Regions from separate parts of the Homo sapiens genome. Here all the other regions are linked to region 1. The links come from fine-mapping of genetic effects on gene expression. A gene starts in region 1. Each other region holds a variant in brackets. All regions are shown on one strand. Distances are from middle to middle. Region 1 holds the start of TRERF1 (transcriptional regulating factor 1). Region 2 overlaps TRERF1 (transcriptional regulating factor 1). Region 3 overlaps TRERF1 (transcriptional regulating factor 1). Region 4 overlaps TRERF1 (transcriptional regulating factor 1).

Evidence for each region.
Region 2: its variant is fine-mapped to the expression of TRERF1 in thyroid (GTEx, PIP above 0.99).
Region 3: its variant is fine-mapped to the expression of TRERF1 in whole blood (TOPMed, PIP above 0.99).
Region 4: its variant is fine-mapped to the expression of TRERF1 in whole blood (TOPMed, PIP above 0.99).

What each region holds. Positions count from the first base shown.
Region 1 is chr6:42,449,563-42,454,708 of GRCh38, forward strand. TRERF1 (transcriptional regulating factor 1) reads right to left here and starts at 2,364. Exons shown (of 18, transcript NM_001395490.1): 1 at 2,112-2,364; 2 at 1,615-1,699. It overlaps LOC124900214 (arf-GAP with GTPase, ANK repeat and PH domain-containing protein 2-like), which reads left to right and starts at 2,798. Exons shown (of 4, transcript XM_047419627.1): 1 at 2,798-4,720. The coding sequence starts at 3,259. The coding sequence ends at 4,356. It overlaps LOC107986596 (a long non-coding RNA gene), which reads left to right and starts at 2,798. Exons shown (of 5, transcript NR_171668.1): 1 at 2,798-3,063; 2 at 4,655-4,720. RefSeq lists silencers at 2,829-2,908, 3,379-3,818.
Region 2 is chr6:42,361,891-42,367,036 of GRCh38, forward strand. TRERF1 (transcriptional regulating factor 1) reads right to left here. Exons shown (of 18, transcript NM_001395490.1): 3 at 1,107-1,189. Among named protein-coding and RNA genes, the nearest start is that of TRERF1, 87 kb to the right of the region's middle. The variant A/G (reference allele first, on the strand shown) is at 2,189.
Region 3 is chr6:42,314,127-42,319,272 of GRCh38, forward strand. The region is part of intron 3 of TRERF1 (transcriptional regulating factor 1); the gene reads right to left. Among named protein-coding and RNA genes, the nearest start is that of MRPS10, 99 kb to the left of the region's middle. RefSeq lists enhancers at 1,138-1,805, 1,874-1,933, 2,524-2,613. The variant C/T (reference allele first, on the strand shown) is at 2,995.
Region 4 is chr6:42,371,675-42,376,820 of GRCh38, forward strand. The region is part of intron 2 of TRERF1 (transcriptional regulating factor 1); the gene reads right to left. Among named protein-coding and RNA genes, the nearest start is that of TRERF1, 78 kb to the right of the region's middle. The variant C/T (reference allele first, on the strand shown) is at 2,125.

The sequences.
Region 1 (5,146 bases):
TTGGCTCTGAGGCTAGGCATGTAAATAATTCCACCCTGGAATGAACATACATAAAGATTTTGTTTACCCTCCCAGCAAATACAACAACCAGACTCAGATTTTCATCAGGTAAAAATAATAGCTAATTTGCTTAACTAATGCCTAGTTAGGAACATTTGATAAGCAGCAATAATATTTAATTCCCAACTAACTCAACTCTCAAACTGCCAAATATCAACCCTCAATCTGGAAATCTGACGACAGTTAGGAAAGAAAAAAAGCACTCTCCATCAGCAATGTGTAGCGAGTTTTTTAAAACCCATTTTTCTCGACCCTGCTAGAACAGAGCCTGTCTACAGAATTGCAGAAAGCTTAACCAACCTCAGTTAACCCCACTGCCTAGTGGCTACTCCCTAACCCTACTAAACGTCTCCGGGTTGGACCCGAGATGCTAAAATTATCCTAGCAAAGTTAAAACTCCCAGCATCATCAAGGTAGCTGACAGCTAAGACCTACAACTCTTCTGCAGAAACCAGTAGGCTGAGGACCAAGAAAACAGAGGCAAGGAGAGGCAAAGGCTGCTGGTTAACTAGTTAAGCACTGAGGACTCCTGCTGTTATCCTCTCCAGTCAGTGAGCATCAACACCACACTTCCTATCGCCAAACTCCTTTCTTAAAAGGGTCAGTGATGCAGAAGGTGGGTGCTAACTGGGACAACTTAAAACTCCCCTTCTTAAAACTCTCCTCAATGACCTGCTGAAAAGTGCACCTGGACCGGTTTTCAGGAGATATTTTTTAATGAACTCTTTAGCCACTACAGGGGCGGTCATTCCTAAGCACGACTTCCACGCACTCACAAGACAGCCCAGGCCATGCTGAATTGAAGCCATCCCCTTCAGTACTGGCACTTGCCAAAGCTGCGTCTAGTCTGGGGAAGAGTTTCCACAAAGCTGGCTCTAACAGGCCGGTAGAAGACACACGGAGGAACCAGAAAGCGTTTTCTTGTAACCTAAGGATGGCAGGCGCACATGCTCCAGTCCAGTGCTGGCCAGAGGCTGCCTGCCAGGTGCTCTCGGCCTCCGCTGGTGAAGGAGTGGTTTGGTTGGTTTTTAATATCTGTTTCTTAAGACCACCGGCAGTAACTTCCCAGTCTCCCAAACTGAAGTTGGGGAGTGAAGGAACAGGTTTACCCCCTTACACATTTCTCCCATCTGGGTGGCCACACTAACTTCTGGGGAGTACCCAGCCCCCACAGAGCCCGCAGGCGCGTATACATACACATATGTATCATGTCAAAAACCCCAAAAGGCAGAGTCCTGCGGTTTCTTAGCTGGAGAATGAAGCCTTTATAACATCACAACCTCAAATGCAAGCCCACCATCACTACCTTTAAGCCAGGGTTGCCAATTATAGCGCCCACCTCATCCCTCCCCCTTTGCTGGGATGCTGTGCAGCCCGGAGAGGGAAGAAGGGAAGAAGGGAGAAGGCCTGCTTGCATAGTGAAAGTAAAGGGGGGGGAGACTTCTCCTTCTGTCTCCCCACTCTTCCCTCCCCACTTCGCCCCACCCCCGTCTTCTCGAGGAGCATCCCCAAACTAATTTTTTAAAAATGAAACTTAATAAGCTTCTTGCCTACCTTGGCTGTTTCTGCAACAAGTGCATGGGCAATCCGACGAGAAGACCAGTATCCGCTTGGGGGGTGAGATGGGGGGCGAGCAGAGCTGATGGAGTAATTTCAATATTAATTTATGTCAGCCGCCTTCTCTCAGCGCTACTCACTTACTGTACTGCCCTCAGCCTGTAAACAAATATCGCTCCGCCAGGAAACATACTCCCCAGATGCAAGCCCCTCTCCCCAGCAGGGAACCTGGCCCCTCGTCCCCCCGACAAGAGTGTGCTCCCCCACCCAGGGTAGGAAGCTTTGGGTTTCCAAAGCACCAACCCACCACCTCCTCCACCACCCCAGCAAGAAACTTACTCGGTCCGTCTACGCCTCCACCCTCCCTTCAGGAAATCTACTCTCCATATGCATTCAGCCTCCCCGCAGGAAATCTGCTCCCCCCTCCCCCCTTCTATATACATGCACCCCTCCCTCTCCTCCTCCCCATGCGCCCTCCCCGGCCAGAAACTTACTAGTGAGCAAGCGTGCAGGCTCTCCTGATGCTGGAAACTTACTCCCAGATATAGCGCCCGCCAGCCCCCTTTCCCAGCCCTGCTCCCCTTCCTGCCCTCCGCCGCAAGCAACTCCAAACTCTCCGCATCCAGCCGTTCTCCCTCCCCAGTGGAAATTTGCAGCGCCGGGCTGCGCGCGTGCATCCACCCTCCCCTTCAGGAAACTTACTCCCCATCTGCATGCACCGCCTCTCAGCCATCGCTTAGAGGGAAGGGGGTGTGCTGGGGAGACAGAAATACATATGTATCTCTCGCCCCTCCCCCGGTCGCAGCCCACTCGGGGCCGAGCCGCGGTAACCTGGCCTTACCTTTGCATTGCTCCCCATCCTCGCCCCCTCCCTTAACCCTCCTTATCCGCTCCCCGGTACCCCCCTTTTTTCACCCATTACCCACCCCTAGCAACCGTTCCCAAGCTCCTCTCGGCCTTTTTTTTTTTTTTAAATCCAGGATGCAAATTCCTCCCTTGTCAGCAAATCGACTGTCAAATTATTTTCTTGCAAAAGGAGAAAGGCGGGGTGGGGGGGGGGAGCAGGAGCAAAAAGAGGGGGAGGGCGGGGGAAGGGAGGGGGAAGGGAGGGAGAGGGACCGAGGAGGGGAGATATCCCTCCGCAGAGCTGGGTCTGGCCGCGGGCGGGGAAGCAGGAAGTAAGGTGTCCAGCGCCGCGACCGGCTGGTCGTCCGCCTCGGCCCCCGCCCGCGTCCCCTTTCCCCCGGGGCGCAGCGCTACGGCGGGCGCGGGCCGCCCGGCGCATTGTTCGCAGCCTTCGCGGCGGTGCGCTGCTGACTTTATTTGTGCGCTTTGCGTGTGCGTGAGGTTGCACCTTTTGTAGGCTGGCGAGTCTCTGGACGAGGATGGGACGGGGGACACGGGCCCAGTTGCGGCCCTGCGCGAGCGGGACCTGTCAGCCCTGAGGTGCAGCGGACCCTCCGGCATGGCCGGAAAATCGAGGCCGGGGAGAAGGCAGCGTGGCCGGGAAGCTGCCGCCTTAAACCCGGACCAGTGCAGGATTGCTTCCTGCGTAGCCGTCCCGGTTATTGTAACACGCTTTGCAAGCTAACGACTGGGGTTTGTGAGGGGGTTTGTTTATTTTTCTAAGTGTTTGCAAAGATGCCGAGGTCGAGGCGGGCTGCGAGGAGACGGTCCGCGCCTACCCCCACCGCACCCTGGCCTCGGTGGGGCTGGGAGAGGGCTGGGGCTCCGGAGAAGGGGCTGGAGGTTCGCGAAGCGCGCGTCTCCATCCCTCCGCCCCGATGGGGGCGGGGAAGGGGTGCAGTAGACCGCGCTGGAAGAGCAGCTCTCTGGGGAGGGGTCTCCCTTGCCGCGGCAGGCGCAGCAGGCCGGGGAGGGGGGTTGCCTAGGAGAGGGGCCGGGCGGCGGAGGGGAGGGGAGGAGAGGGGGCGCGGGTGCAGCCGCCGCGCGCGCTCGCCCCTCCTCGCGCGCCATGACTGTGGAACGTGGTGCCGGGGAGGAGGGACGGCCACCGGGGGCCGCCCGGGGCTGCTCGGCATTGGTGCGGAAACCCGAGCCCGGAGTCGCTCCCTCGCGCTGTCTCCTCCTCCTCCTCTGCGGGGGAAACCGCTGCACCCAAACCGGGAGCAGCTGCGAGCAGGGGGCAGGGCGCGGGCTGAAAGGCGAGCCGAAGGTTCAAACCTCCGCGGCGCGGGCGGGGGCGGAGGGCAACAGCAGGACGGCCCCCAGGTCCCGAGAAGGCGTGGCAGTGGTCGGCCCAGGTGTCAGGGAACCTGGCCTGAGACCCCTGCATTTCCAAGCTTCTTTCCTGGTCAGAGGAAACGTGAACCAAAGGTAGTTCAGCTAAACAGACCACCTCGAGCCGGGTTCGAGGCATCTGTCTCGAGGGCAAGACAGTATTTTTTGCACGACAGAAAGTTACACCATCCATTTTTTTCCGTGGGGGAAATCATTGCGCCCCTTCCCCCAAAATGTCGCGCAAGAAGAATGACCTCCCGCTACCCAGACCTTCGCCAGTGTCCCCCACCCCACCCCCACCCGGGCGCTGGGTGTGGATTGGGCGGAGGGAGGCTATATGGGAGCTTAAAGCATGAGGTCATGAGCGGAGGAGACTGCTGCCAAAAGCACCCGAGGTTTTTGTGTTTTTTGAGGGGTAACGGTTCTCCATCTTCAGCAGTGGAAAGTCCTCCCGCCTACCCTACCAATTCTGGGGCACGTGGACCACAGAGTCCCTGAAAAGAGGAGGGGACCCGGGCTATTTCGCTTAATGAGCGTTTGGCGCGTGCCCAGCCCTTTATGGAGCCCTTCCACATAAGCAAAGAAAGCCGAGGGACAGCGCACAGTGTTGCGGCGACTGGGAAAGGCTTCAGATGCTCGATGTCCCCCGCCCTCTTTCCTCAGTCCTCGGTCATCTTCCAAGTGGGCTGCTTTCTGCGATAGCTTCCTGTCCCCCTCCGACCCATTCCTCCCAAGCGACTAAAACTCCTAATGACATTATTTTAAAGCCTTCAAAACCCTCTTCCATTGCCCTTAGAATAAAGCCAAGTTGTGATTTCGCCTCTACAGACCTCTCTACCCGCCCAGCTCTTCCTCGGATATTGTAAGCCCCGTCAAGCTTTCTTTGTTCAAGGGGTGGAGGAGGGGGCGCCTAACCTTTCCCCTTCCACCTCTTCTTACTAACTCCTGCTGGACCTTCAAGATTTGACTCAACTGTCAGTAACTTCAAGATGCCTTCCTGAGGGTACACCCAGGTCTCTACCTCAGGGGAAAAGACCTACCCTAGGTCTCCTGGCAGCAGCGCTGTGGCCGGAGTTGGCCCCAGTGGCGGCCTTTTTCCAAGCGGAGGAGGAACAGCCAAGCTAAGCTTGACCACCGTCACCGCCCAGGGACCTGAGCGGGAGCTGGCTAGGACAAAACCTCAAAACGGGACTTGGGAAAACCGCACCACCCAGAAAACTCAGCCCCTCCACCTCCCTCCCAGCACACACACACACCCTCTTAATCTAAAACTCCTCCCCGGGGCAGA
Region 2 (5,146 bases), 88 kb before region 1:
AGATGGGAGATCCAAGGGGTTCAATAAGGATATTTATTCTTTTGGCTCCTTCCTGGCCATGCTGCTGTAGGTTGATTGCATTCCTCTACCAGGGACACCTCTCCAGCTCCTGTTTCCCATCCCGACAGCCAGTCCCTCCCTCTTCCTTCCAGGCACAGTAACAGCTCCCTGACACTGCTGGCCCTGGGTGCTTCAGCATCCCTTCTTGGCTTCTCTTAACTCTGCCTGCATCCTTATAAAGACTCCCTTCAGTAGACGCTCTTCAATTACCCCATTTGCACGAGCCACGTGTTTCCGACTGGAACCCCGAGACACAATGGCTTTAAAATTAAATCAGAATCAGGCACAATAAAAAAGAAACCGAAGCAATCAATTCTGAGCCTCATACAGGAGGAATGGAAAGCGTGGCACATGCCAAGAAAACAAAACCACACACACCGAAATAATCAAATCAGATACCACCCCCCTTCCCCACTGTCGCCAAGAATGTGTGGAGGATGGAGCCATCTCTTGCCGGATCAGGGTTTACACCTGAAATAAAAGCTTAAAATTCTATTTATGCACAAACTACTGACCCTTGAAACAGCTTGTGGGAGGCCCGGCAGAGGAATCATAGCTGTATGCCCATTTTATGGAGGGACAAACTGAGAATGGAAGGGATCATGAGGCCAGACCTGATAAAAACGCGAGGAATGCCCCAGGGCCAGCTAAGGCTCCTGAGTCCAGCAATCCGCCTCTGGCAGGCTCTGTGGAGCTTCCCACAGTGGCCTTCTACACCTCCACTGCATCCCAGACATTTTTAAATCCTTCTAAACACTTCTAGAACTACCATCCATGGACATCCATTGGATCCTCAACTATTTACAACTCTGCAAAATCAAGAGACACCCTCCGCCCCATTCCAGAAGCTGCCAAAAACCATTATGTGAATCCACAATCCCTGACCATTTCCCAGAGAAAATTTTCTAGAAATTAATGGATGTCCAGGCCCAGAGCAGCCCTCCTCCACTTCCTGGGGCATTCTCCACACCATATGGGTCCAAGAAATGGTCTTACGACTGCTTTGCTGTAAAATATTCCAACACCAAGAACTCCCGAGAAGCGACCTGTTTGAGGATGAAGAGGCTGAATCTTTCAGGGTCGTCCTGCTTCTGCGTCTTCTTCCTTCAGCATTCTCCACAGCCAGGGCCTGCAGGAGTGACCCAAAGAGCACAGTCAGGACATCTGGCTTCAGCATGGGAACAGTGAGTATCAATCAGGGAGAGGTCGGAGGAGTGACCTGGGATGGAGCCCTGAAGAACCCAGCAGCTGATGGGCCCACCCAGGACGAGGACCCAGCAAAGGCTGCTGAGGAAGGTCCCGGGGGAGAAGAGGACTTAGGAGACCAAGACGTTCAACTTCATTCTGGTTATTCAGGCTCTAAACCCAAGTCATCATGGCTTTCCTCTTTCCCTCACACCCCACGTCTAATCCATCAGCAAAGGACGCCAGCTTCAACGTAAAGTAATATCCAGACCCTCACCGTTTCTCGACACCTCCACTGGTACCACTTTAGTCCAAGCAAGCAGCATCTCTCATTAGGTTATTGTGATAACCCCCTAATTAGTTGTCCCACTCCTCCCCTCACCTTTCTATAACCATGTCTTGGGGGTTGAACTGTGTCTCCCCAAGATTCCTATGTTGACATCCTGACCCCTAGGATCTCAGAATGTGGCATATTAGGAGACAGGGTCATTGAAGATGTCATATTAGGAAACAGGGTCATTGATGATATAAATAGTTAAGACGAGGTCCTACTGAAGTAGGATGGGGGTTCCTAATCCAAAATGACTCTGGTGTCCTTATAAAAAGGGGATATTTGGAAGATTGGAGGTTTTCTGCCACAAGCCAAGAAGCTACCCAGAGTTGGAAAGGAGCCCGAAACAGACCCTTCCCTGGAGTCTCCAGAGGAGCATGGCCCTGCCAACACCTTGATCTTGGACTTGCAGCCTCCAGAGCTGTGAGACAATAAATCTGTGGTTTAAGCCACCCAGTGTGTGGTACTTGGTTATAGCAGCCCAAGCTAACAAATACAGCATGCTCCCCAGAGCAGCCTAAGTGATCATTTAAAAATCACTCTTCTGCTCAGAACACTCCTGTAGTATTTCATCTGTATCAAAGTAAAAGCCAAAGTCCTTGAAATGGCCAC[A/G]GTCCACATGACTTGGCTGGGCCTCCTCCCTGATGGACTGAGACACCTGACCTCTTCTCCTCCTACTCTGCCCTTCCTCCATTTCCTCCAGCCACAATGGCTTCCTCAAACATCCAGGCAGGCTCCTGCCTCAGCCCTCCATACTTGCTCTTCCCCATCCCTGGAGCACTCTTCCCCCAGGCATCTGTCACTTCCTACAGGTTTCTGCTCTCACGTCCTTTGCAGTGAGGCCCACCTCAAACCCCGGCCCCCTTCCTAGCCTCCTTCCCTGTTGTATTTCTCTTTGCAACCCTTATTACCACCTGACATTTATTATTTTTTTCATCCCCCTTTCCCCACTTCCCTTAGACTGTAAATTCCCTGAGAGCAGGGACATCGTATTATGGTGTGCCCAGAGCCTGGCACATAGTAGGTGCTCAAGAAATAGCTGTTGAAAGACTTTGTATGATGGAATCAAAGAAGCCAAGAGAAAAGAGAGTTGCAAGAAGGAGGAAGCTGTCCAGTGTCAAAAGCAGCAAAGAGCCCAGACAGATAAGGACTGAAGTGTCCGTTGTGTGTGGCAACATGGAAGCCGTGGGTGACCTTAGAGAGGGCAGCCCCTGCAGAAGGCAGGAGGCCTCTGCAGCAAACCCACCGGGTCCCTGCTCTGGACCAGGCATAAGCCCCCACCAGTGGAGGCCAGCCTGCGTGGGCTATGTTAGCGAAGGCAGATTATTTCCACACATCCATCTGTAAGGGGAGGAGAAAAGAGAAGGTAAGGCTGAGGGGTGTGAAGGGCTGAGGAAGTTGCTGCTGCAGGACTGAGGCGTGAGGTCCCAGGGGCCGCAGGAAGCATGGGGATCCCTGTCCAGGGAGAGGGTTCTCTCTGGCCAGGAGGAAGGATGTCTCTTTCTCTGAGTGCAAGGAAACCAGGTGGGAACGAGCCCAGATGCAGGTCAGCACACAGGAGGGCAGGTGGGAACCTGAGTGGGCTCGCCGTGGAGTAATATTTTCAGTGAACACAGAAGCCAGGTTGTCTCCTGAGTGGTGAAGGGCAGACAGGAGAGGAGGCTGGGGTGCACGTCCCACTGTGGGTATCAAGTGCGGGCGTGGCCCTGAAACCCAGCACCTCCTGACGTTTCTGCCCTAGGTGGCTTACTCTCTCACCCTAGTCCACACCCTGACTGGAGACAGCCAGCTGCTGGCCAGTATCCCAGAGGGCCCTGCTCTAGCCAGAGGCCGTGGTTTCGTAGAGGCACAATCTGCATGGATGTGGGGTTTTCTGTGACAGCCCTCAGTAGCCAGGGTTTAGGAGGAGAAGTTCCTAAAGCTGAATTCAAAGGCCCCAAGCAGTTCCATCTCTTTCTGTGAAGGCTTCATCATTCTCCCGGGCTCCCAGACTCAGAACCTCATACTCCACTCCCCTAATCCCTCCCAGTCACAAAACCATGCCTCTTCCCGCATGAGAAGATTCATTATTCCTTGAGCACCTACTAAGTGCTGGGTGTGTTACAAGTTAAAATCCTCAAACAAGAGTCCTGTGAAGTGTTTTTAGCCTCTATCTATAGATGACAAAACAGGTTGAAAGAGATGAAGTAATTTGCTCAAGGGCACACAGGTAGCAAGTGGCAGAGCTAAGATTTGAAACCTTCCACTTCCCTCTCGTCTTTTCTACATACACTACCACCACCCTAGTCCAAGTCCTCAACATTTCATTCCTAACTCTTGACATGATAAATGTCTCCTAAGTTACCTCCCAGCACTGCCCATTTACAGTTCACAAATCGAGACGGATCTTCTTACAGCATTGCATTTACTAATCCCGGCTCCATGCTTTGGCTTTGGAGGCTCCTCAATACAGGAACATTCCAAGCTCCACAGCCATCCCTTGGGATCCTTCATAAATGGTGCACATCTCCTTCTTCAATCTTGTTTCCCATGCGTACCTCTGCTCACCCCATCTGTAATCCCCTGCCCAGTCCATGCACCCCGTCAAGGTCCTAACACCCAGCACATTCCTCCCCTGCAGCTCTGCCCTCTGGCCACCCAGCTCCAGCCCTCTCCTGCAGTCTGCTGGGTGGCACCAACCCAGCTTACCAAGCTCTCCTGGCTCTTCTGAGCTCACTGCATCTAGCTTCTCTGGGCAAGAGCTCCCTGTGCCCATGTGGACTGCCAGCTTCTTGAGGGCAATGAATCGTGTATTGACAATGCTTGCAACTGCCCGCTGCTCAACACAGTGTCTCAGTTATTTGATCCACAGAACAATTCTGATGCTCAGGTGATATGATTCCAGAAGTTTTTCAGAAAATGTAGGAGAACCAAGATGGCCAAGTGAAGAGACACAGGGCCTTCTTGAAGCTGGGAGGCATACCTATTCTTCCTGTGCAGGAGGCACCAGAGTCCGGCACCTCCTAACATCCACTCTAACGGGGAGGAGGATGGCTGGGTTTGGCTCCTCCCTCCTCTTCCTGCACCTGCATATTCAAGGTCTTGGTGTCCTTCCTTTACCACCCTTTCACATGCTTTTGTAGACATAGATAGATATACTCTCTTCTTCCTTCTTCAAGGGAGAGCTTGAAATGTGAGAAATCCAGCTGTGTGGAGAAGCTCATGGTGACTGGCAGAACAGTCAGGACTGGGCAACCAGAAGCAGGAAAAAGAATATTCTATTTTGGGAAATGAGGAGCTGGACTGATCCACTTCGATCACCAGCTATGGACCACCATCTAACAATTCTGGGATTCCCAGAGCCACAAGAGGGAGATGCCTGGGAAAGGTGAAAATCAGCAAAACACTCAAGGGCCATCTGATCACCCCAGGCAGACAGGCAGATCTGGGTAACATGGGGCTGAGAGAAAACCACAGGTTTCAAGGGGATGCTGTCACCAAGATGCCCCATAAGAAATCAGGATCTGCCCAAACCAGGGGCAACCAAAGGGGCATTGTACTCCTCAGGACTTAGCTGAAGTCACAGGAGCA
Region 3 (5,146 bases), 140 kb before region 1:
CTGAAGACAAACTAATTACTTTTAGACAAATGCATGTACATATTAGGAAATGAAAACCTCCACCATGGCATGGTAAGTATAAGCTTCAGCTAAATTCAGAACCCTAGCTGATGCCAGTAAAAAGAACTATTAGCAAATTCACTGCTTTGTGCTTTGTAAACATCTCTATTCACAAGAAAACATGCTTTAGAGTATGAGTCTACCCTGATCGAACTCTTCATCAACATAAATCCCTGGTTTTACAACAAGAAGCCAAGCTCACCCGATGCTTTCAAATGTGCACAGTTAAACTAGGGCAGAGGTCCCAGCAAGCCTTGCAAAATTAAGCTCATGCATCTAAAAAAATACTGGCCGAGTGCCTCAATGCTAGGCATTGTTCTCCGTGACTGGCACGCAACAGTGAACAAAGAAGACAAAACTCCCTGCCCTCATGGAGATTTCATTTTAATAGGGAGAAACAGAAAATAAAAATTATTATAATTAAAGTGTATAGTGTATTAGATGGCTGTAGATGCTATGGGAAAAAACAAAGTAGGAAATAGTCAGGGAAGCCCTCTCTGAGAAGGTGACATCTGAGCAAATGCCTGAAGGAATAAGAACAATGAGATCTGGGGAAAGAGCATTCTAGGAGGAGGAACAGCAAGAGCCCTGTGGTGGGTACATGCCGGATGTGACTGAGGAATTAGAAGGGTGTGGCTGGGACAGTGAAAACCAGGAGGAAAGCAGTAGGAACAAGGTCAGAGATTCTAAACGTGATTTTAAAACAAAACAGAAGTATAAACTTGATGGAGCGAATAGGTTGGTCGCATAGGGTGCTTAGGAAAGGCCAAGGTAAGGAGGTGTCAGTTGAGCTGAGACCTAAATGAGCAAAGCATGAAGATGTGAGGAGAGAACGTTCACAGCAGTGGTGACAGCGAGTGCAGTGGCTCTGGCAGGGATGAGCGTGCATGTGGCAGGTGTGCAGTGGGTGGGATGAGGCAGCGTGGTAGGACGGGGTCTCCATTATGTAGGGTAGTGGTCTCCACCTGGAGTGATTTTGCCTTCCAGAGGACATTTGGCAGTGTCTAGAAACATTTCTGTGTCACGACTAGGGAAGTGCTATTGGCACCTGGTGGGCAGAGATGCTGCTAAACATCTTACAATGTGCAGGACAGTCCCTTTCAAGACAGAATTCACTAGCTCCAAATGTCAATAGCACTAAGGTTGACAAACCCTGGTGCAGGGCCTCACAAGTCACAGTAAGAAGTCTGGGTGCTCACAGAAGCACATGCCAAGGACTTTCTAATGCCTCGTGCCTGCTGGAGTGTGATCCTTACACGTGGCACATCCAGGTCTAGAGTATGGCACATTGGGATGAAAGAGAAGGGCGCTAGGATCGGCGCTTAGAGCACAGAAGCAGGGGTAGAGGCAAAGAGGCTGTGACGAGGTCACCCTAACCTAACTTGGAGCTAAGAGGGAGCTCCTGGAGTAGAGACAAAGGAGGTCAAATGAAGGGGGGCCATCGGGCTGTCTTCTAGCAGCTGATATCCTTCAAGAGACCAGGTGGGGCCCCTGGGTCAGGGTTGGGGAGAGGAACACCACCCCCCCCCCCACCCACTGCCACCCCCTAACGTCATAGTGAAGTGTCTGAGGGCTGGAGAACGCTGCAAGTCTGAGCAGTGTGGAAGGCACAGGTTGGGACCAGTGTGCAGACAGCTCAAGGCTCAAGAAGGACATCACCAGCAGAAACACAGGCAGAGGCTGAAGAGGAGGGACTTGGGTGGGGGTGCTCTCCTTTCAGGGGAGAGGACCCCCACACCTACCCTCACGGTACCTGGAAGATGCACATGAGGACCCAAGGGAGGCCTAAAAAATAAGAGGCTGTTTTGGGATGATCTCAGATTTGGTTCTTCCTGCAGAATGAGTTGTTCTCTGCTCCACTGGGGGTGGGGGCACCTGGACGTCAGGCTGCCTGGCTAATGGGTCTACACAAATGACATTTCGAGTCACAAGTTATTTAATTTCTCCGCCAAAGTCAAGAAAGTCCATGGGTCTGGGGAAGTGGCTGTGATGACCAATGACTCTGGCACGCAGTTAACCCCAAGCATGCACCTCCTCCTCCCCGCATTGCTAATCTTGATGATTCATCCAGAGAGGCTGGTCTGCCTCAGTGGAAAGAAAATCTAGGTGAGGGTCTCATTACTAAGAAATGAGAAAAATGCCTCAATGTAGAGGCAGGTCAGAACCCTTCCTGGTCACTATCCAAAGAAGCTTTTCTAACTTGGGGAGGACAGATGAAGGGGACTGCCTCATAGTGACTTTGTTCTAACAAAATTTTGGATGGCATTTTCAGGTGCCTGCTTATGTGTGCACAAGCAGGCAGACACCTTCATTAATACTCTTGAAACCACCTTTGCAAAGATTATGACAGTGACAGGAGTCTAGCATGGCTGACTCCATCTTGCCTCTAGCCTCACAAGCCAGCTGTCCTCCCTCATTCCTGGGTGTAGACCAAGCTAACCATGGGAGGAATTTAGTTTATTGTTTTAACTTTGAAGCAAGGATGATAACAGTCCCTCCCTGAAACGAACCCCCTCCTTGCTCAGGGACCAAAATCGCCTTTGTCTTGGTAATGAAAGGCCACAAGATTAGGATTATGGGAGGGGCCTGAATTCTGCTAACATGTAGGTGTAGCTAAAGGATAACCAGCCATTCCCCTCCACCGCCCCCAGCTTGCCTTTTTATAATCCCTTGCTACTCATGAGTCATGTGGCCAGAGGTCACAAGATTTGTGACTTCCCCAATTGCTCCTATAGATAACATCACTATTGTAGAACTTAAGATGGGTCTTTTGAGATGCTTTTCAGACTTTTGCATTCTGGCAACCATCTGACTCTACCTGGACCTGGGACTCATGACAACCTGTCCTGTGGCCCCCTAATGTAGAGGCTGACTCAGCACACAAGGACCATTTTCCACACCCCTACGATTTCAACCTTCACCAATCAGCAGCTC[C/T]CATTCCCCTGTCCACAAAATTATCCGTAGAACACCCTAGCCTCTGAGTTCTCTGGGAGACCAATTTGAGTAATAACTCCAGTCTTTCTGCTTGGCTGGCTCTGCCTTAAACTGTTTGTCTACTACAATACTGTGGTCTCAGTGAATTGGTTTTGTCTGTGCAGGAGGAAGGAAGAACCTGTTGGGTAATTATACCCTCACTCAGCACTAATTTCCTCCTCAGTAGTTTTTGTTTGTTTGTTTGTTTGTTTTGAGACAGAGTCTTGCTCTGTTGCCCAGGCTGGAGTGCAGTGGCATGATCATGGCTTGCTGCAGCCTCAACCTCCCAGGCTCAAGCAATCCTCCCACCTCAACCTCTCAAGAAGCTGGGACTACAGGTGCGCACCATTATCCCCGGCTAATTAAAAAATTTTTTATAGAGACAGGGTCTCATTTTGTTGCCCAGGCTGCTCTTGAACTCCTGGGCTCAAGCAAGCCTCCCGCCTTGGCCTCCTAAAGTGCTGGGATTACAAGCGTGAGCTCCCAGACCTCAATAATTTTTAAAATAACAGTCTTCTCCACATCTAAAACATGTTCACTGTAAAAATTTTAGAAAACAGATACAAAATAAAAAGAAGAAAAACTCCATCACTTGTTGAGAATTATTTTTTTTTTTGCTAAACTTTTTAAGATATAGTTGAGATTATATTGTATACATAATTTTGAATCCTGCTTATAAAATAAGCATTTTGTCATGTTGTTAAAAGTTCTAGGCTAGGCACGGTGGCTCACACCTGTAATCCCAGCACTTCAGGAGGCCGAGGCAGGCGGATCACCTGAGGTTAGGAGTTCAAGACCAGCCTGGCCAACATGGCAAAACCCCGTCTCTACTAAAAATACAAAAATTAGCTGGGCGTGGTGGCAGGCGCCTGTAATCCCAGCTACTTGGGAGGCTGAGGCAGGAGAATCGCTTGAACTTGGGAGGTGGAGGTTGTAGTAAGCCGAGATCACCCCACTACACTCTAGTCTGAGTAACAGGGCGAGACTCTGTCTCCAAAAAAAAAAAAAAGCTCTTTGTAAATACTAGTTTTAACCATTGAATAATAATCCACTCTAACGCTACAAGAAATAGAGGTCCATATTCTCCAAGGTCTTATTTCGCTGAATACAAGTAGTTTTAAACCAGCCCCCAACACTGAATACAGGAAATTTCTGAGCACTTAATAATGAGTGCCAGGCACTCTACCCCTACCATGTAGGGTGGCTGTGGGGAGGGCTAACATTGGACTGACATAGACAAAATTTCTTTCTTTTCTACAGTCTTGGGATCTCTACACTTCACTTGGTGGAGGGTCATATTCCACTGTTTTCAGTGAAACAGCCAAGACGAACCCTTCATTCAGTTAAGAGGAAGCTCCAGGCTCTAGTTAGGCACTGGAAGTAAAGGAAATGTGGGTTAGGTCCCAAGAAGCAGAGGTAATGTGGACAACTGAAAGGCTCCAGAATGGATACTCAGGGGCTGGACAACTACAGCCTGAAGGCCAATCCGCTGCCTGTTTATGTAAATAAAGCTTTATTAGAACATAGCCACACCCATTCATTTCAGTATTATCTATGGCTGCTTTCAGCTGCAACAAGCAGAGTTCAGTAGCTGCAATAGAGACCATGGCTGCAAGCCCAAAATATGTAGTACCTGGTCCTTGAAGACAACATTGTTTGATTCCTGTATTGGGAGGCCAACCATCCTCCAAAATAGATGCTCTCCCTTCTTTGGCTAAGAGTCCTCACTTAGAAGTACTCTGAAGTGTGGCCAGCCAGAGACTACATTTCCCATCTCCTCCTGCAGCAAGGTGGAACTCCCTGACCAGTTCTCTCCAATGAAATGTGGGCCAAGTAACTTGTATCGCTTTTGGGCCAAGGTGGTTAAGAAGCAGGTGAGCCTTCTCCATCTTCTGTTTCCCTTCCACCTGAATGAAGAGTCCTCATAGGCCTGTGGCAGTGTTTCTCCACCTTTTCTTCATTGTTGCCCTCCTAAGGGGACTTTTTAGACATTTTTTTTCCCTAATTACTTTCCTCCATGACATTTTCACACCACAGATATACTCTATATCTGTTTATGTACCATGTAGATGTTTGTGATTTATGCATCAAAATGTAAGATTTTTCAGCCTCC
Region 4 (5,146 bases), 78 kb before region 1:
ACCTGTGTGAGGCCTTCTGGGGAACCCTACAGAGCTGGACTAGCATTCAGCCCCTGTCCTATAAGAAAGAAGCCATTGGCAATTCTGTCTCCTTAAATGTCCCCCCACATTGTGCTTGTATATGGCAAGCTCATCTGCTCAGGGGGAAATCTTGCCCTGTAGCAGCACTGTTCTGTTTAAGTAGGAGGTATGTGCCTGTTTTCCCTCCCTCAAAATCTCAACTAAGGCTGGGCGCAGTGGCTCATCCCTGTAATCTCAGCATTTTGGGAGGCCAAGGAGGGTGGATCACTTGAGGTCAGGAGTTCGAGATCAGCCTGGCCAACATGGTGAAACCCCGTCTCTACTAAAAATACAAAAATTAGCCGGGCATGGTGGCAGGTGCCTGTAATCCCAGCTACTCAGGAGGCTGAGGCATGAGAATCACTTGAACCCAGAAGCCAGAGGTTGCAGTGAGCCGAGATCAAGCCACTGCACTCCAGCCTGGGTGACAGAGCAAAATTCAGTCTCAAAAAACAAAAACAAAAACAAAAACCCCTCAACTAGACTGTAAGCTCCTACTAGAGTCAGCTCTAGCTTCTGTTCTTCATTTGCCTTAAAGAAAGTCCTCCCTGTTGGCTTTTGTTGAGCTCTTACTAACCAAGTAGAAAGCCAGTTCTCAAACCCATCAGCTCCTACATGAGGCTTCTGTCCAACAGCTACGGCTCTCACTGGGCTACAGGGACAGTTCTTTCCAATGGAGTTCCTTCAGGCCTCAGAGTGGCAATGGCTTCCCCCCACAGGACCATTCCCCTGTGACCACTTAGAGTCCAGTCTCTGGGTGCTGTATCCTCCCAGTCAGTTCCCTTCCCCCTAACTAACTTAAAGTCTCTTCAACTAAACCTTTTGAGTGAAAGAAAACTCACGACCTAGGATTCGCACCTAAGAAAGCTGGATTCTCATTGGAGACTTTGGAGATGCGCACACTCAAAACAGCCAGACAACATCCCAAGGGATGGCAGAGAATCGCCTGCCACTGATGCCTAATAGAGAGATGGAGAGGGATGAGAAGGTCTCAGAGGAAGTGAGATCTGAGTTGGGTCTCAAAAAATGGGTTCAATGGGGTCAACTGGAGAGGAAGTAGGAAGACCATCCCAAGCAGTGGGCCAGCACACACGTGGCACTGACCACAGGGTGGGTGGGGCCCCACTACGGAGGAATGAGACCCTGAGTCAGGCAAAGGGTAAGAGTGTGTGTTCGGGAGTCACGTCAGAATTGGTCTGAGCTCAACTCTACCTCTGGCTAGCTGAGCAACTGGGTAGCTTGCTAACCTCTCTCAGCTCCACATTTTTCCTCAGTAACAGGATGAAGACAAGGATAATCAGGGTACCCATGCTATGGTTGTTGTAAAGATTTAATGAGAGGATGCACATAAAATGCTGTCAATAAATATAATTTGTTATTCTTGCTACAGTCAAAATACCAGTGGCCATCCTGCTGGTGTGGCCGGGGCACTTTCTTCTTTCTAACAGCCACAGTGTTGTGAAGAAGGGAGCACTGGTGGACTGGGCACATCCTGAGTCACCTAAGAAGGGGAAGAGGCTGGGTGCGGTGGCTCACGCCTGTAATCCTAGCACTTTGGGAGGCCCAGGTGGGTGGATCACCTGAGGTGGGGAGTTCAAGACCAGCCTGACCAACATGGAGAAATCCTGTCTCTACTAAAAATACAAAATTAGGCTGGGCACGGTGGCTCACACCTGCAATCCCAGCACTTTGGGAGGCCAAGGCGGGTGGATCATGGGGTCAGGAGATCGAGACCATCCTGGCAAACACAGTGAAACCCCGTCTCTATTAAAAATACAAAAAATTAGCTGGGTGTGGTGGCGGGCACCTGTAGTCCCAGCTACTCGGGAGGCTAAGGCAGGAGAATGTCATGAACCCCAGAGGCGGAGCTTGCAGTGAGCCGAGATGGCGCCACTGCACTCCAGCCTGGGCAACAGAGTGAGACTCCGTCTAAAAAAACAAAAAAAATTAGCCAGGCGTGGTGGCACATGCCTGTAATCCCAGCTACTCAGGGGGCTGAGTCAGGAGAATCGCTTGAACCTGGGAGGCAGAGGTTGCGGTGAGCCAAGATTGCACCATTGCATT[C/T]CAGCCTGGGCAACAAGAGCAAAAAAAAAAAAGAAGAAGAAAGAAAAGAAAAAAGGCCGGGCGTGGTGGCTCACGTCTGTAATCCCAGCACTTTGGGAGGCCAAGGTGGGCAGACCGTGAGGTCAGGAGATTGAGACCATCCTGGCCGACATGGTGAAACCCTGTCTCTACTAAAAATACAAAAATTAGCTGGGCGTGGTGGCACGTGCTTGTAATCCCAGCTACTCAGGAGGCTGAGGCAGGAGAATTGCTTGAACCAGGGAGTCGGAGGTTGCAGTGAGCCGAGATGGCACCATAGCCCTCCAGCCTGGCAACAAAGTGAGACTCTGTCTTTTTTTTAAAAAAAAAAAAAAAGAAGAAGAAGAAGAAGAAGAAGAAGAAGGGGAAGAGCCTGCTAAGCCTTAGAATGCCCAGGCAGCCGGGGGCGGGTGTGTGCAGCTTGCCCCTACACACTCTGTTCTCTGCCCTTCCTGGACCACTGGCTATATCAGCTGGGCTCTCTGGGCTTCCAGCTGGATTTAGTTAAAGTGAGAGCATTTATTCCCCCTTCCTCCTCTTCACCACAGTTTGACAGTGGTTGTGTCTCGTCACCATCACAGCTGTTGTCGAGGCCCTTTCTACCCATCCCTGGGGCTCCTTCCTTCTGGCCGAGGGGAGGTAATAGCTTCCCACTGTTGTCAGCTCTGGGGAGCCTCACCAGCCTTAGATGGTTTCCCTCACCATGCCCACACATCTGTAAATAGTCCTCTCCAGTTAAACCCTCTGTGTGTACCAGTCATTTCCTGCCAGAGCTCTGACTGACAGAGCAAGACCTACATCCACCTACCAGATAGATGGGGCTGAGAGGACAGCCCGGTCCTACCCTCACCCCCTACCATCTCCTCAGAGGTAGAAATGTGAACGGCAGTGTTTAAGACATAAGCACCTGGCCAGGTGTGGTGGCTCACACCTGCAATCCCAGCACTTTGGGAGGCTGACATGGGTGGATTGCCTGAGCTAAGGAGTTCGAGGCCACTCTGGGCAACATGGTAAAACCCTGTCTCTACTAAAAAAATACAAAAAATTAGCCGGGTGTGGTGGCGTGCACCTGTGGTCCCAGCTATTCAGGAGGCTGAAGCATGAGAATTGCTTGAACCTGGGAGATGGAGGTTGTAGTGAGCCAAGGTTGCACCACTCCAGCCTGGGCAACAGAGCAAGATTCTGTCAAAAAAAAAAAAAAAAAAAAAGACATAAGCACCAATGTGTTTTGCCCAAAAGTAATTATACGGGAAATTAACACCCCTGGAAGCTGGAAGAAACCCAGGAAGCTCAGGGTAAAGCGACTGTCCCAGCCCAGGCAGGGCCTTCTGTGTTCTTCCAAGTCCATCACACAATGGGGCGCCAACAAAGTCACAGGCTCTAGATGGGTGCCTGGCATATGGTAGGCACTTCATAAACACCTGTTCATGAAGATGCCTTCTGGCTGAAGATGCAAGCCCGAAATCCAAGAGATCCTGCAGAATTGGATACTCCATGAAAGCCACCGCTCTGTGGAGCAGCTCCGGAGCCACCCTTTGCTCATCATCCCATGCACATGAAGCTCAGAGGAGCCTCTTCTTTATCCACACAAATGCTAGTTCCTCCTCTCTTAGCAAGAAATGCCTGAGGCTGACAGCTGTCTCGTCACCTCTCTTGCTGATTTCGCTGCTCCTCATGCCCTCACAGGGCCAAACACAGCCTTGGTTTTGTGCAGTCCAAAAGCATTTATTAAGTGTCTACTATGTCCAAGCACCATGCCAGGCACTAAAGTTCCAAAGGCGATTAAGACAAAAGTCTCAGGGTCCAGGGACCACGAAGAACATGAAGGAGGAAGGCTACACACTGACTGACTAAAGAGGATTCTCAAAGATGGGTGAAGAAGCCTGAACTAAACTGGTCTTGAAGACTGCGGCTGTGATTACTATGGGGGGCTGTGATCACGATCACTATGGGGAAGGAGAGGGAAGGTGCAGGAGGTGTAAAGAGGGAAGTGGGAGCCTGGAGAACCCCTGGACAAGGGCAAGCAGAAGTGAACTTCACAGGGGCCAGAGCAGATAAGAACCAGGCAAGGGGCTTGTCTCAAATGGGGCCCCCTTGATTCAAAAACCAAGCACATTAAACAGAAGAAATGAAACCCGATTAGAAGCTGTCTCCTCCTGGCAGCCTCACAAGTCACAATGTCCCCCCTTTAGGAAATGTGAAGGCGGTGTGGCTGGGTCTGGGGGAAACTGCTTGTCCTGAAGGGGATGTTTCTCGGCCTACCACTCACCACCAAGCTCCCCAGATGTTGGGGTCAGCCCAATCAGTGTGAAGGGGGCCTGGCCACCCCCAGTTCCAGGGCACTGAGCACTCCCACCCCAAACAAAATAAAAACCTTTCACACATGCTTGCTCTTACTTGGAATTCTAAAATTAAACGTTCATTCCTCTCACCTAAAAGGTTTCTCCTTTTATAAGCTAATATGCAAATGCCTTGGAGAGGCTAAGTCTTAGCAGCCACATATCCGCTTAGCATGAATGCTTCCAGAGGATCGTTCCTGGAAAACAGGCTTTGCGTGAGGGATGTCTGAGAGATGATCTGTGGCTGGGGTAGGGGAGAGACAGGAGTAAGAGGGAGATGCACATGGAAGGCAGAAGGCTGCTCCTGTGCTGAATCAACACCCAGAAGGGCAGAGGGGAGAGGGTTAAATGTTGAAACCTTCATGACTTTTCGTCTAATTCTTTTTTTTTTTTTTTTTTTTTTTTTGAGACAGAGTCTCACTCTGTCGCCAGGCTGGAGTACAGTGGCGTGATCTCAGCTCACTGCAACGTCTGCCTCTCGGGTTCAAGCGATTCTCCTTTCTCAGCCTCCCGAGTAGCTGGGACTACAGGCACATACCACCACGCCCAGCTAATTTTTGTATTTTTAGTAGAGACGGGGTTTCACCATGTTGGCCTGGATGGTCTCAATCTCTTGACCTTATGATTTGCCCACCTCAGCCTCCCAAAGTGCTGGGATTACAGGC